Homo sapiens: one gene and its partners. The protein of the gene in region 4 purifies or fractionates together with the protein of the main gene of each other region. This does not show direct contact. Each region holds a gene or a part of one and is shown on either strand. Other genes may lie near its edges.

What was found. Proteins that work in one complex are often made in the same cells at the same time.
Region 1: the proteins of IGDCC4 (region 4) and CDS1 purify together in Homo sapiens (affinity purification with mass spectrometry; one large-scale study listed by BioGRID and IntAct). This does not show direct contact.
Region 2: the proteins of IGDCC4 (region 4) and ST7 purify together in Homo sapiens (affinity purification with mass spectrometry; one large-scale study listed by BioGRID and IntAct). This does not show direct contact.
Region 3: the proteins of IGDCC4 (region 4) and PLCD3 purify together in Homo sapiens (affinity purification with mass spectrometry; one large-scale study listed by BioGRID and IntAct). This does not show direct contact.

What each region holds. Positions count from the first base shown.
Region 1 is NC_000004.12:84,645,477-84,649,317, reverse strand, and holds part of CDS1 (phosphatidate cytidylyltransferase 1), read right to left. Parts: intron 762-3,841; coding exon 632-761; 3' UTR 1-631. UniProt on the Homo sapiens protein: Catalyzes the conversion of phosphatidic acid (PA) to CDP-diacylglycerol (CDP-DAG), an essential intermediate in the synthesis of phosphatidylglycerol, cardiolipin and phosphatidylinositol.
Region 2 is NC_000007.14:117,225,851-117,229,691, reverse strand, and holds part of ST7 (suppressor of tumorigenicity 7 protein), read right to left. Parts: intron 1-3,841. UniProt on the Homo sapiens protein: May act as a tumor suppressor.
Region 3 is NC_000017.11:45,118,825-45,122,665, forward strand, and holds part of PLCD3 (1-phosphatidylinositol 4,5-bisphosphate phosphodiesterase delta-3), read right to left. Parts: intron 2,549-3,841; coding exon 2,387-2,548; intron 2,307-2,386; coding exon 2,078-2,306; intron 1,631-2,077; coding exon 1,501-1,630; intron 220-1,500; coding exon 1-219. UniProt on the Homo sapiens protein: Hydrolyzes the phosphatidylinositol 4,5-bisphosphate (PIP2) to generate 2 second messenger molecules diacylglycerol (DAG) and inositol 1,4,5-trisphosphate (IP3).
Region 4 is NC_000015.10:65,388,244-65,392,084, forward strand, and holds part of IGDCC4 (immunoglobulin superfamily DCC subclass member 4 precursor), read right to left. Parts: intron 3,739-3,841; coding exon 3,637-3,738; intron 2,096-3,636; coding exon 1,912-2,095; intron 1,172-1,911; coding exon of another isoform or gene 1,169-1,171; coding exon 1,041-1,168; intron 736-1,040; coding exon 565-735; intron 344-564; coding exon 206-343; intron 1-205.

The DNA of each region.
Region 1 (3,841 bases), on a different chromosome or scaffold from region 4:
TCTAACAAACCAATCATGGCAAAAATTTCAGGCTCCCTCCCCTGAATTTTGAAACTACCTAAAAGCAGAATGTTTTCCCCTGGCAAATGGTTACTTCTTTGAAAAGTAGACAATCTTTTTTTTTTTTTTTTAAATCCAACTAAGCCCTTTAGAAAGTACTCCAGACTACATGAGGAGGAAGTGCAGGAGAACTGACTTCCTATTGTGCCTTGCATAAAACATTTTGCTAAAATTAAAAGCAGCTCCAAGTGCAAAAGTAAATATTTGTGCAAAAAGGCACACTGCCAGGTGCAATCTTAAAACATCGTCAACTTACTCATTTTATAGTGTTTGACTCTTTTAAATACCAGTCTTTTAAATTATGAAACCTAGCAAGTAAGGGGAAGGAAGTTCACATCAGAAAATACACTTTAGAAAAGGTACAAGACATTTTGCTGGCAATTTGCTACTTATTTCATAACATAGATCAAGTAAGTGTTTGTTAAATATTCACAGTAATTTCAGAGAGAAACATATCTCCAAAACTTCAACCTATTGCATTTTTAACTATTTTTCTGTACAATTTATAAAACATCTGTCAGTGTTTTTCTGAATAATTCCTTCTTGTCAGTCCTTCCCTCTCTGGATCCAGTTATACCTTCAAGGTGGGTTGTAGGATTCCTTTCTCAATGAGATGAGTCTTCAGGGTTTTATATATATTTAACTGCTGTTCAGGTTGAAGCACCAACAACTGCTGTAGCACTTTGCTGGGATTTGGGCCCCTAATGATAAAAGGCAAAGAAGACAAGTTCGTGTTATTTTAATAGGGATAAGTGAAGCACATACCTCCAATTTAAAACAAACCATTCCTTTAAGTGTAGAGTAGGAATCTTTACAGAATTAAAATAGCTCTTGATAATAGCTCACTTTAATGTGCAATGTTAGTGTCAAGGGTTACAGCAGAGAGGGAGAAAGAATGCACAAACACAAAACACAAGAGCAATGTAAGTCAATTGAAGGGGTGCAGATCTAAGTTCTACAAAAGCTCTTGAAAGGGCAACCAAAGTTAAAGGTGGGGATAAATGGCAAATCTTGAGATTGAATGAGACACAAAAACTATTCTGTAAGGAAAGGAGCCTGGTGAACATAGGACAAACCAAAAAGAGGGCATGAAAATATAATTGAAATTTTTAACTTCCAAGAAACTTCAGATGATGAAAGGTATTTTGTTGAAAAATATCTCCAGGGAGTTATGAATATTCAGAGTCAGAACACAAAAGTCCTGAGCCTAGCACTGAAGCCCCTTACCAGTGATACAGGTGCCGTGGACTTTGTTCAAAGACAGTCCTAGGTGAACTCCAATATAAAAAACAAAATAAAAGCAGATCTGCTTTAAAATCCAATGGGAAAAAGCAACATACAAGTCATGTATAGAGATGGCATAGAATTCTAAGAAAGACATTTATGTGGGTAAATAATGTATGCCTTACAGTAAAGATTGTTCACATTGAATTATAGAAAGTAGAAATCCCAGCAACAAAGAAATGTTTGCTATTTAGTGTTACCACAATGAGGATGAGCAGAGGAACTATTTACTCTGAAAATCTTTGACTTAACAAATTGCACAAGAGCCCAGATGAGCCATCCCACCAAGGGTCATCTTCATGCACGTGGCTCAACTCATCTGCCAAAAAACTTTCACACTCAGGTCAGGACACTGTTCGCCTTATTTCATTTCTTTAAAAGAGTCAGCAACTTCACAGCATAAACCCCAAGTAGAGACCAACAGAGAAAAGGAAGGCTGCTTTAGCAAGTTCAGCTAAATGCAAAATTGTGTCAGCAGGTGCTCCCAGCTAGCTGCATCCTGGCACTCTCAGTGTCTTCTAACAGTCTAAATAGCTGCTTTCAAATGGTGGACAACATGGCTCAGCATGACACCTCCCTACTGAGAGGACAGCATTTTTTTTTTAAAGAAAGCATATGAGTTAATGCCCTAAAAAGCTGCCATATTCTGAAAACAAAGTTTTAAGGATTTAACCACTAATTACTAATACCCAAATAGATCAATAAATAATATGCAAATAAGTTAAATAGTCCCATTAAAAGGATAAAGATTATCAACTGTCTTATAAATAAAACAGGGAAAAAAATCAGCTATATGCTTACTAGAAAAAAGAAACACATTAAATATAAGGAAAAGGGAATGTTAAAAATAAAAGGAGAGACAAAGAAATAACATGCAAACACTGACCAAAAGAAAGCTGATATTGCTATTTTAATATTCAACACAGTACGCTTTAAGGCAAGCAGTAAAGACAGACATTATATAATGACAAAAGGATCAATTCAATGGAGAGATATGACAATCCTAAATTTGTACATACCTAATACAACCTCAAAATATATAAACCAAAAATTGGTAGAACTACAAATAAAAAAATACATTTACAATCACAATGAGAGACTTTAACAAAGCTCTCTTAGTAACTGATAGAACAAGCGGACCAAACAAACACAAAAACAAATAAACAAAAATCAGTACAGAAGATTTAATTAAACCTCACCTAACTGACACAGACAAAACTACAACCCAAAACTACAGAATACACCTTTGCCCATGGAGCATGTACTAGAATAGATAACATGCTGTACCACAGAATAGATCTCAAAAATTATAAAATACTCAAATCATAGAGTATGTTTTCCGACCACAGTGGAATTAAGGGAGGAAAGTGAAAAAATCTCCATTTGTTTGAAAACTAATGAATATGCTTCTAAATAACCCATGTGTTAAAGAAGATATAATACTGGAAATCAGAAAACATGTAAATAATGAAAATACAAATATCACAACTTGCAGGAAGAGGATAAAGTGATACTTAATAGTCTTCAATGGATAAATTAGATAAGAAGGCTAAAAATCAATAATCTAAGCTTATCTCCAGAATTAAAAAAAGAACAGCATATTGAACATTTAAAAAAGGCAGAGAAATGAAAGATGAGAGGAGAAATCAATGAGGTAAAAAATTTACAGTAGAGAAAATTAACAAAGCCTGGAGTTGATATTTTTGAAAAGATTAATGAAATTGATAAACTCGCTATCAGGACTGTCTCTCAAAAATAGTTAATATAAAAATTCTCACACTACTGTGGTACATATTTAAAATGTGTATTTAGGGATTGCTAAATATGAATTTCCTTCCAAGTACTATGAAGGAAATCCATGTTTTCTACAGCTCAGGTACTATTAATAAGCATTCTGCCTTCTGGGCCCCCAGTAGAGACCACAGAAAATAAAGTTAACATGCAGTTGATGTTAAGCCTTCACACTCACACTGGTATTTCAAGGCAGATCCAAAACATTAAGGTTTAATAACAAGAATAAACCACCCTTTCTAAAATGGCAATATTCATCCACCCATCCACCAGCCAGCCCCTACACACACAGGCATGATCCCCTCGGCCTGCTTTATTTTTCTGTGTGACACTTACAACCATCTAACAAACTATATTTATTTGTTTATTGTCTCTTTCTCATCATTCTTTCTTCAACTTCCAAACAAGTAGCTATGGGGGCAGAGATTTGGTTTGTTTTGTTCTCTGCCATATTTGTCCCTAGAACATTCTACAATATGGCAGGCACTCAAGTAATAATTGGTAGACTGGATGCATTTCGTTATCTCCCTTTTTAACTCTTAGTATTCATGATCATTGCAATGCCCACAGTTGAGAAATCAAATCTCCTCAAGTTTCAAATCCTATACCATCCACATTAATTGGGTCTTCAATGTGGTCCAGGACCATGACAAATACTATCTTTTTTTAAGTTGTTCAAATGTAGGTAAAACAATTACAAGTTAAC
Region 2 (3,841 bases), on a different chromosome or scaffold from region 4:
CCCACGCTTGCAGCTTAAGTCTCTGCATTACGAAAGTCTCAAAAGGCAACCATTTCATCTTTATGTTTACAGGAAACATCAGCTGATGGTCAAACCTGCATTCCAGTCCTTGGCCCCAGCACTGTTAGATAAGGGGGAGAAGTGTCAGCTGACAGCCCCCTCACTCCCCTGACAGGTGGCCCACAGTCCTGAGGTCTTCCTGCTAGTCTTTAGCATCTGCCAGCTGCCATGCAGATGACTGGTGTCGTCAAACAGGAATGACAGATTGGTGGCAAGTGGGCACAAGAGTTAAAAAATGGTGACAACTTAGACCAGCTGCTCATCTAGCTGGGTGTAGAGCTCACTTTAAATGGAAATGGCAATTTTACAGGTCAAGTGTGTTGTGTATGAATTTCTTTGCGGTCCTACTGCCTCCCAGACACCAGCGTGGGCTCCTTTCTGAGCCACATGTTTAGCAGCATGCCTGGGACCCTGGGAGAAGGCGGCAAACGGGCTATTCCATGGAGGACAGATCCTTGTTAAGGGGCTGTTCCGAGTGCACCTCTGGGAACTCTTTCATTTGGTTACTAAATTCCTTTCTGCTTTTCATGTAGAGAATAAAGCTCATTAGCTGTGTCTTTTAAGAAAGCCAAGTGCTTCACATGAGATACTTATTAAAATATTCTCAAATCCATTCTAATTCTGTTCTTGTGAAGAATCAGTTTCATTCCACACCCCATCCAGCATCTGGCAGAAGAGGTGCCCTATCCCAGTCAGGGAAGAGAGAGTTGTTGGGATGGTTTCATTGCCCTCTCTCTGCTCAGAACCCAGGTATTGTCTTACTGGGGTTCAACACCTGGTTCTTGTACCATGGAGCCCTTTGTCCTAAGCCCTTGTCCATTACACAGCACCATCTACACTACCAAGAATTTCTCATAGAAGTGTAGTGCAGTGTGTGTGTATATAATGCAGAGGGGATCATAGTTCTGAGGTCAAGCAAATTTAGTATATTTAATAAAGTTAAATCAGGCTCCTTTACTAGGTAAATGTTCTGTGGACTGTGGGTCTTCGAGAAGAGGTATGGTGGGCAAGTTTCCCAAATTTGCTGACCCAGAATCTGTCCTGTTGTTTCATTTTGTTTTTGGACCAGTAGAACACACACTGGGAAGGCAGGTAACACAAAATAGCCAGATCATCAAATGCGAGATCCATATAATGCAAAATCAAGACAGCGTAAAATTTGGGATCCTTCTCCAATCTGTGTTTTACACCAATTAAATGTATTTATTTAGTAAGGCACTTAAGTGCTGGGTGAAATATAAAGGGGTGTAGTTCAAAACTAAACTCCCACTGTCAGGAAGCTCAAAGCCCAGTGATGGAGGGGGCCACGAAGATCTGGACAGAGCAAACTAATAATGAGATAGGCTGTGATGGCAATCAGGATAGAGGCCCAAACAAAGCACTGGGATTGGAAAAGGGAGAGAATCCATTCTGTTGAAAGGAGCAGGAATACTTTTGAGAAAGAGGCAAGTGAAATGGACTCCAGTGGATGCTTGGAATATCAAAAGAGAGAGATGGAGTAAGGATGGTAAAGGAAGAAATAGGAGCAGGGTGGGCCCTCCAGGCTCAATAAACAGTCAAAGAGAAATGGAAAAGCAACACTATTACCAGAAGGTAGTAAATGGTTCAGTTTAGCTAGGACAGTTAGAAGAAGTAGAGTTCAAAAGTGGCTAGAAGGATACTGGGGAGGGCCCTGCGTGTCAGGTTGGATCTGCAGTTAAGAAACAGGCAGCCATGTCAGTGCTTGAGCAAAGAGGAGACGGTGCCATCCTCAAGCGGGTGCCAGGTACATGGCAGTTTCTGATAATCTTCTGAAATTATCCTTTGTTGAGTGCACAAAACCACCCTACGGAATAGATGGCCTATCTTTTTCAGTTTAGAGCTGGATTGGGAGCACCCATGAATGCAGTTGGAAGGCATCATGGGAGACAATGGGCCTGGGAATGAGCAATTACTGCCCAATTACTCTGAAAGCATTTGTAAAATCCTAGTTATAAGAGGATAATATGGAACAAGTCTACTGATTGCATTCACCCAACATGATAGGAAATACACACATAATATGTGTACATACATAATTATATATGTCTGCGTATATGTATATCTACATACACAGACACATATATAATCAGAGACTACCAAGGCTCCACAAACCACAGCATCTGTCTATAATGCTCAACTTCATAAAGAGGAGTTAAAGTGTTACAGTGGTCTCGATAAACCAGAGATTCTGACAGGTGGTGGAAGATAGGGCTTAATAAACAAGGTGATATTGCTGGCAAAGTTATATCCTGAAGACTTGGCCAAAAACAGATTTAGAACTGTTGAAGTTGTGGTTGAGTGGGGAAGGAACTGCTGATATTGAGCCATTGCAGCCATGGAGCTGTTGCAACTGCTGAACATGAGCCAGCGCAGCTAGATAACAGGCATCGCTCAAAGTCTGTACTCTGGGTGATGCACACACACTAAAATGTGGGGTCCTCGGGGAGCCTCACCTTGAGCTGTAGAATGAATGGAGATGTTACAAGGTTGGCTTAAAATAAAGGCCTTTATTTGTTTGCTTTGTTTTGGGCACTAACCTGACTTGGATAAAAAGCACAAAAGTGAAGCCTCTGAAAATCAGGAGGAAAGCTTCATCCTGGTTGATGTCCATAAATGCTCCCTTTTCCCCATGCTGCACAGCAAAGTACTGTGGTCCCTTCTTTCCTGGATGACACCTGCCCTTCTCAACAAGGTTCCACAAGAATACGAAGCCCCAATGCTTCCAACGTATAGAATGATTTGCTTCTATCCCTCCTATCTAGAATGTTCCATCCTTGGGAGAATTCACAAAGACTCCCTTGAACTTTTTCCTAGAGGGCCTAATTTACTCTCCCACGAGCCCCAGTTGAGATGGGCTCCCTTCATTACTAAGCCACCTTCCCCCACAGCAAGCCTTCCATCCCATACCTGCAAGGAAGGAGCAGGCAATGTAGTGAGGTGTCTGAAGCTGCTAAGCCCTTTCACTTCATAACCAAATAAAAGCTCCATCAGGAGATATTTTTTAAAAAATGTCTGGAGGTGCAGACTTGCTTGGGATGCTCAGTTGTATTTCTGCGCATGTTTGAAAATCAGTCAATATTTTTTAGTTGGAGACCCAACCAATATAGAAGGAGAAACAGCAGTTTTCACTTGACTTAGGGGGAAATTTACTGCTGAAAAGTTAAGTCTGAATGAGCAACACCAAGAAAACCTGGAACAGCCTATTTATCTCGATGTCTAAAACTGTCCAGAGGGCAGAGATACATGGTCATATCTTTAATCAAAATGCCCTAGGATTCAATGAGTGTCTCGTGGTGAGAAAAAGCAACTGAACTAGTAAAAAAAGAGAACGACATTTCAATTGCCTGATCTTCCTTTTCCTGAAACACCATCACTTAGAAGGTCACGGCTCCCAACAGGCTTCATTAACATTCAAAACGCCTCTGCTTATCTGAATAACTTCCAGGTGCCCTACTGCAATCAGACAATTGACATTTCACGGTAATCAATATCAGGCTTCAAAGAGGTCGAGGACTATAAGTGAACATGAGAGTCAGAAATCAAGAGGCTCAGTCTCGGAGAAGGAGAGAGACAAGAGAAGGAAAGACAGAGGGGTCAGAATCCTGACCTTCCCACATTCTGTGAGGAGGTGGGTTTGGAATGATAACGTATTTATATGTGCAAGCTTATCTTTGTAACTAAACATTCTAGGAAGAGTTAGTCCTAAATCACTGAGGTAGATTAGATTAGGGGGAAATGCCAGTGGAAGCTGCTCTTTCCA
Region 3 (3,841 bases), on a different chromosome or scaffold from region 4:
GAGCTCATAGGTCTGAATGAGCTGCTGGGCGCGGGCCAGTGTGGCGCCCTCCTCGCCCTGGTCCTCCAGGAACTCCAGCAGCTCAGGGGCACTCAGCACGCGGTCCTCGCCCGAGTACTGATGGAAGATCTCCTCCAGCTCCGGCCGCTTCAGCAGCCGCCGCAGGAACTCCTCGATCTCAGCCCCCTCTAGACGGTCGTTGTTGGAGTGGTCACACTCCTGGGGAGCAGCAGGAGAAGCTCAGAGGAGGCAGACACTCCAGGAAACCTGGCCCCTTTGACCCATCTGTCATCTACCACATCTGAGAAGGCAATGGTCCCCATTTCACAGGTGGAAAAACAGAGTAAGACTTGTGACTCTAGCTCACACAGCTGGTAAATTACAGGGCAGGATTTTTTGGTTTGTTTTTTAGGTTTGTTTGTTTGTTTGGTCTTGCTCTGTTACCCAGGCTGGAGCGCAGTGGCATGATCATAGCTCACTGCAGCTTCCAACGCGTGATCTCAAGTGATCCTCCCACCTCAGCCTTCCAAATAGCTGGACAGCTGGGACCACTGGTGTGCACCACTGCACCTGGCTAATTTTTGTATTTTTTGTAGAGATGGGGTCTTGCTGTGTTGCCCAAGCTGATCTCAAACTCCTGGCTTCAAGCAATCCTCCCGCCTAGGCCTCTCAAAGTGCTGGGATGACAGGGGTGAGCCACTGAGCCTGGCCGGCAGGGCTGGACTTAAAAGGTCTCTCTGGTTCAGTGCCTGCCCCTCTGCACCATGACCTACCCCAGGAATCAAGATGTGGAAGGAAAAATGGTGACCCTGGGCCAAGACAGGGCCCTTGGGCCCTCACACTCCCCTAGGTGGACACGTTACTATCCTGACATGCACATATTCACACCCAGCATCATTGAACAAGTCAATGAGAATTCATGGAGCATCCCTGTGAAGCTGTGGCCCAGGGGTCCAGCTGCCATGGGCTCTCCTGTCTTTCGGGGTCACAGGTGGGTCCCACCATCCACATGCACACAGAGGTCTGCCATGGGCTCCAGCTGGGCCATAGCTGCAGAGCCCACTCCTGTGTGCCCCTGTGCTCCCATGCATGAGGTGCCAACACGTGCCACAGTGGAGGGTCTGCGTGGAGAAGGGTGCACACGTGTATCCGTGCACATGCACACCTGTAGGCTGGCTCCTGCCTGTGCCCCCACGTGCAAAAGGTGCCTTGCAGACTCAGGGAAATGAAAACAGCTTTGCTGCTCACTTTGGAGGGGTAGGAACTGAGGATGAGGAAAGTTCTGGGCCCCGGCTCCCCACTCCCTTCCTGGCCCAGTGGCCTCAGGGGAGGCAAAAGGCTAACTAACCCCAGATGTTGCCTTTGTGCAGGGAAAGGCTGCTCGCTCCAAAAAAGCTGCAGGTGGAGAGGGCAGGGGAGCTGATGATTCAGATGGCTGGGGGCAGGCAGAGGTCAGAGTGATGGCAGAGCCAGGGGCTGGGGTTCAGGGCGGAAGCCCACCTTGAAGAGGAGGTAGGCGTACATGTCGTTCATGTCCACGTTGACCATTCTCAGCAGGCTCTTGATCTCCTTGAAGCTCATCTTGCTGTCCTGGTTGGAGTCAGCCCGGTGCAGATAGGAGTGGATCCAGGTGTGGGTGCTCAGGAAATAACAGCAACACGCCAGGCTGCCCCCAGCCCTCAGGTAACTGGCTGGTAAGTCACCCCCACCTGGGTCTGGGGGATCCCCAGTTTAGGGGCTGTACTTTCCCCTTGGCCTGTGCACTCCCCGAGCACGGTAGCAGTGTCTCCTCCGCAGGACTGGGGCTTACCAAAGACAGGAGGCCCTGTCTTCACCCTCAGAAGGCCTCAGGCCTCCCTGAAGGAGGCGCCGCGCCACCCCTCCTGGTGGGAGCTTGGGCCTAGCCAGGGCGCGTGTCCCCACCCTCAGTTTCGAAGACCAAGGGCTCCGACCCAGACCGTGCGCCCTCAGGACAGGGCCCTGCCTTCCCTGGGCGTGGGGGCTCTCCAAGGATGGGGCTCTCCAAGGTTAGGGCTCTCCAAGGATGGGGCCCTCCCTCCCAGCCCCGGCAGGATATTGGTCTAGCCGCTCGCGCTGGCTCATGGCGTCCAGGCGCGCGCGGAGCTTGGTCAGACCGCGCACCCAGCGCTGCGCTTCCTCAGCCGTGGGCGCCGCCAGGTCCAGGTTCTTGCGGCGGCCCTTGAAGGCGATGGTGAGGCAGCGCGCTGGCGCGAAGGCACCCCCGAAGCGCCGCAGGCCCTCGGACTGGTGGCCCTCGCGGACCGCCTCGATGTGCTGCACGAAGACTGAGAGGAGGGCCGGGTCAGGGCGGAGGACCGGGCCTGTCCCCACCTCCCTGTCCGCCCGGCGCTCCCCGGCCTCTCACAGATGTGCTGCGATGGCGCACGCGGGATGCGCCGCTGGAACCACACGCTCAGGCCGTCCTCCTGCAGCCGGTACAGCCGCTCCTTGTGCCACGTGCGCGAGCGGATCTTGCGGAGCCGGGAGCCCCGCAGCATGGCGCGCACGTCCTCGTCCTCCGTCAGGCCTGGCGGGGCGGGAGGACCCGGGGCGTCAGGCCGTACCTGCCCAGAGGCTCCCCTGCCCTCCCCCGCTAGGACCTGCTGCCCCATCCTCCAGCCTCTCCAAACCCAGGCCTTCATCCCACAGTAAGCTTCCCTCCCCCTCACAGGACTCCCCTCCTCCCCGATTGTAAGAAGCCTCCTGCACTGGGTTTGGCTTTAGGCTTTGGAGCCCTAAACGCCCCCCAACCCGTACCCCATCTCCCTCCTTCCTTCCAAGCAGCGGCCTCTGCAGTCCCTCAGTGTGGAACTGCCCTCGGACAATGCCTGGGACTCAGGCCTCACTAAAGGTTGCCCTTTCTGGCAGGGCGCGGTGGCTCACGCCTATAATCTCAGCACTTGGGAGGCCGAGGTGGGTGGATCACTTGAGGTCGGGAGTTCGAGACCAGCCTGGCCAACATGGTGCAACCCCACCTCTACTAAAAATACAAAATTAGCTGGGTGTGGTGGCACATGCCTGTAATCCCAGCTACTTAGGAGGCTGAGGTTGCCATGAGCCAAGATTGTGCCACTGCACTGCAGCCTAAGCGACAGAGTGAGACTGCGTCTTAACAAAAAAAAAAAAAAATTGCCTTTTCTGCCACTATCCCCCACCACATGGCTTCCAGCCTTCAAGTCCAGAATTTGCCACCAACAGCCTTTTTCCCTTGATGTGAAACCGTAGCCATCAGGAAGGTCTCACCATCTAACCTAGATCTCTCTTGCTGTAACCCAAGCACCTTGCCTCTGCTTTCCCAAAGACAAGGAGGACAGCAGAGGCCACCCTGGCTCCAGGGTCACAGGCCAAGGACTCCAGGATCAGCCCTGCCCAGCTGATCTCCAGGCATGGGAGGCTGAGGCATGAGAATCACTTGAATCCGGGAGGCGGAGGTTGCAGTGAGCCAAGATTGCGCCACTGCACTCCAGCTTGGGCAACAGAGTGAGACTCTGTCTCTAAAAAATAAATAAATAAAAGCATCTCCTGTGTGCAGGCCCTGCTCATGTACTAATAGACAAGGAAACTGAGGCTCAGGGAAGCTTAAGTAAGTTGTCAGAATTCCATACTGGTAGAAGCCACTTTGGGCTCTGGAGGTCGGGGTCCAGCGCCTCTGACCTTTGGCCCTGCACTGCACGGCTCTTCTAGTGCTTCTAAATTCCGAAGTCTGGGGAGTAAGTCTCAACACTGTCACTTCCCAGTTATTTAATACATGGCCCCAGTGGCACTAACCTGTCACTAAGCCTCATGTTCTCCATCCATAAAATGGAGACCACAATCATAC
Region 4 (3,841 bases):
CAGAAAAAAAAAAAAAAAGCCAGTCCCCCACGAACCTGGCCTCTGAATCAAGTTATCACTGAACCACACCTATTTCCCCTTCACATTTGCTCTGCCCCCACCAAACCTGGAGGACAGCTGTGCAAAACAATGAAATTGTAGTTGTGTCCACAGGCAGGGGCTTGGAAGTCAATCCAGGGAAACCTGGGCTGCCCTGTGCTCATACCTGACAGCTTCTCCTGGAGCGTGATCACATCCTGCAGGCGGGAGAAAGGCCCAGGTCCCACCTCTGTGCGCGCCCCCATCTTGAAGAAGTACCGAGTGTCGCTCTCCAGGCCATGGACCTCAGCACTGAAGATGTTTCCTGGGGGTGAGGGAGGCAGGGAGAGCAGGGATGGTGGATGGGGTGGGTGGATGCAGAGGTGGGCAGGGAGGGGACTGGGAGAGTCTGCTCTCCACTTAGGCAGCAGCTTCTGCTTGCTTCTCCCAGTAGCCCCTGGAACAAACCCCAGCACTGTTCTCACTGCTGGAAGCGGGAGAGGCTGGGAAGCTCTTGAGCAGATGCCCTGGGGCAGGAGCCCTCACCCTGCGTGGTGAGCAAGGTCCACTGGTGCTCAGGCTGCGTGTGGTTGCTGCTGTACAGGATCAGATACTCCACGATCTCCCCGTTGGGCTCTGTGGGGGGGCACCAGTGCAGCCGAACCGTGGACGGTGTCAGGGGGCTCAGTCGCAGGTCGGATGGGGGTGTGGAGGGCCCTGGGGTGCGGGAGAGGAGATGGGGAGAGATGTCAGAGCTGGGGGACAGAGCATGATGATATGACCTCCCTTCTTCCTCCTTCATGGAACAAGCCACAAAGCAAAGATGAGGTCTGGTTTCTAGTTGGGGAATTCTAGAAAACAGTATGTGTGGTTGGAGGGACTTAACATTCCTCCCCTCCCAGAAACTCTTCTGCCCCCAGCTCTGCCCAAACCTTGGGGTTCTGAAGTATGTTTCTTGCTGCTGGGGCAAGAAGGAGTTGGGCAAAAGATGGGTTGGTGGCAAGGGGCTGGGAGCCACTCACGGTCAGGCAGGGTGGAGCGCTCCACCACAGAGCCGAAAGGCCCATCCATGTCCACGCCGTGAGACTGCACTGCAAACTCGTATTTGGTGAATGGCTTCAAGCCGCCAATGAGGATGTCTTCTCCAGAACTGCTAAGGCAAGAAACGTGACTAGTGCTCTCAGGCACACTCTCCCAGCAGGGCAGACTCCTCCAAATCTACTCCCCTGCAGTCAGCCCCAGCCCCAGGCTCTACCCTGGGAAGGGAAGCTGCTCCCTGGCCTGGAGGCGACTACCACCACCCAGGGACCTACAGAGAAGTCTGGATGTATGCTGCTCCAAGTCCAATCTCGAAACCAGACCCCTTCCTCCAGGAAACCTTCCTGGATTAATCCAAGTTATTCTCCACCTATGGAATCATCTCCGATGCATCTTTTCTTTGGCTTAATTTTGCCTTCATGGCAGTTGTATATATCGGTTGCTTTTTATGCGACTTTCCTCCGCCAAACCTCAGGCTCCTCAGGCTCTGTCTCCCCATCTAACAGGGTAGAGGGAGCAGCTCTGAGGACAGGGGTGGGGTTCTCTTCACCATCAGACTGGGAGCCCTCTGAGGTTGGAGAAACAGGTCTGTCCTGTGTCACATTCTCCGGAGTTTGAGAACAAGGCTCTGTTGTGAGGGGACGGGATTGGATGGCCTCCTTGCTACCATCTGGTCAGCAGGCAAGGACGTGGACCCTGTGCAGCCCCTCTGTGTGGCCTCAGCGTAACAGGTGAGCCATGACATGTTCCTGAATCCCAGGGGCCCTTCCCTGATCACCACCTGCTGCCTTCCCACCACCACCCCCCACCTATTCTTCCTCCCTTCTTTACATTAGTAAAGGCATTAGTCCCCACCTGGTGTAATAGGTGACCAGGGAGGCATTCCTGAGCCCCCAGGGGCTGAAGCGCACAGTGTAGTTGACAATCTTGACTGTGGTGAAATCTGGCTTTTTCCACCGAAGCCAGATGGATGTGGAGCTGTTTGATTCCGCATGGACGTGGGCTGGAGGCAGGGGTGGTCCCCTCTGGATAGGCATGTCTGAAAGGTGAAAACTAGAGTGTGAGGAAGGGAGGGAGGATACTCATCCTTAAATATGTATAGTGGTTTACAGTTCCCAAGGCTGTTTCTTTGACCCACTCCTTTGATCCTGTGAGTTGAGTGGCATCATTCCTACTTCACAGATAAGGCAATTGAGGCTTCCAAGAATTTGATTTTTGACTGTGGAACACTAGTCTGTAAGAACGTAATAAAGAGAGAGGCAGCAAATCACAGCAATGAATAACCATGGAACCAGACTCTGGAACCAGGCTGCCTTGGTTCAAATTCCAGCTCTGACACTTACTAGCTGTGTGACCTTGGAGAAATTACTTACCTTCTCTGTGTCTCCATTCACTATTCTAATGATAGTACCTACCTCATGGGGTTGTTATGAGGATTAAATTATTTAATATTTTAAAAATAGATAGGAAATTGAAATATAATAAACACTATATTTATAAGTGTTTATTTTAGAAACATAAAATAAACCCCAAGAGAGCAAGAACCTTATTTGTGTTGTCCACCACTAAATTCCCAAAGCAGCTGGCACTTAGTAGACACTCAGCGAAATATTTGCTGAATGAAGAAATGAACAAACTGGAATTAGAACTCAGCTGGGTGTGGTGGCTCACACCTGTAATCCCAGCACGTTGGGAGGCCAAGATGGGTGGATCACCTGAGGTCGGGAGTTCAAGGCCAGCCTGGCCAACATGGTGAAACCCCGTCTCTACTAAAAATACAAAAATTAGCCAGGTATGGTGCACACCTGTAATCCCAGCTGCTCAAGAGGCCGAGGCACAAGAATTGCTTGAACCCAGGAGGCAGAGGTTGCAGTGAGCTGAGATCATACCATTGCACTCCAGCCTGGGCAACAGAGTGAGACTCTGTCTCAAAAGAAAAAAAAAGAACCCAAGCTTCATGGCTTCTGGTTGATTACTCCCTCTGCTAAACCATGTGGCTGGGAAGTTAGGGGTGAGGGAGTATCATGATGGGCAACTGAGGTGTCCAATGCAGGGCCACAAGGCAGTGTAGTGCAGTGGAAAGAGTTTTGCCTGGAAACCAGGAGTCCCAGTTGTAGCCTAGGCTCTGTGTGACCTTGGACAAGTTCCTTTTCCTCTCTGAGCCTCAGTTTCCCGTTAGGTCACACAGGGATACTCACTCTTCTTAGACTTGAGAGATAGTCTGATAGTGTGATGTAGACAAATGTGTTTTTAAAAAAACTTGTTTTACAGTCAAACTTGGGGTCGGGAGTTACTGATCAACCATAGGGTTTCCCTCTGTTCAAACTTTGGAAATCAGCACTATTCATGGGTAATGCAAATAAGGTGGCAGGCCTAAGACAGTGAACAAACAAGCTTCTCTCCATGACAGAGGCTCTCTGGAGCTAAAAGAGGACCCCTGATCCTAGGAGAATGGGTTTGGGCATGAGCTGAGGCTACTAAAGTACCTGCTCACCAGGCTGGCCCAAAGGAAAAGAAGAGGAAGCGGCTAGCAGAGCCCTCACCTGAGCCCTCCCCGCCTTCTTCCCCCACCGCCCTCACCTGGTGCCGGCGCCTTCTCCGTCTTGCCCTTCCACACTGCTGCATAGCCATCCTCATGTTTGTTGAAAGCCACGAGCTTCACCTCGTACAGCCGGCCAGGGACTGGGGAAGGTTACAGGGCTTAATGGCTAGGGGGACATCTGGGGTCACTCTCCCGTCCACAGAGAGCATCCCATCTCTAACTTCTTCACACAACTTGCCCAGT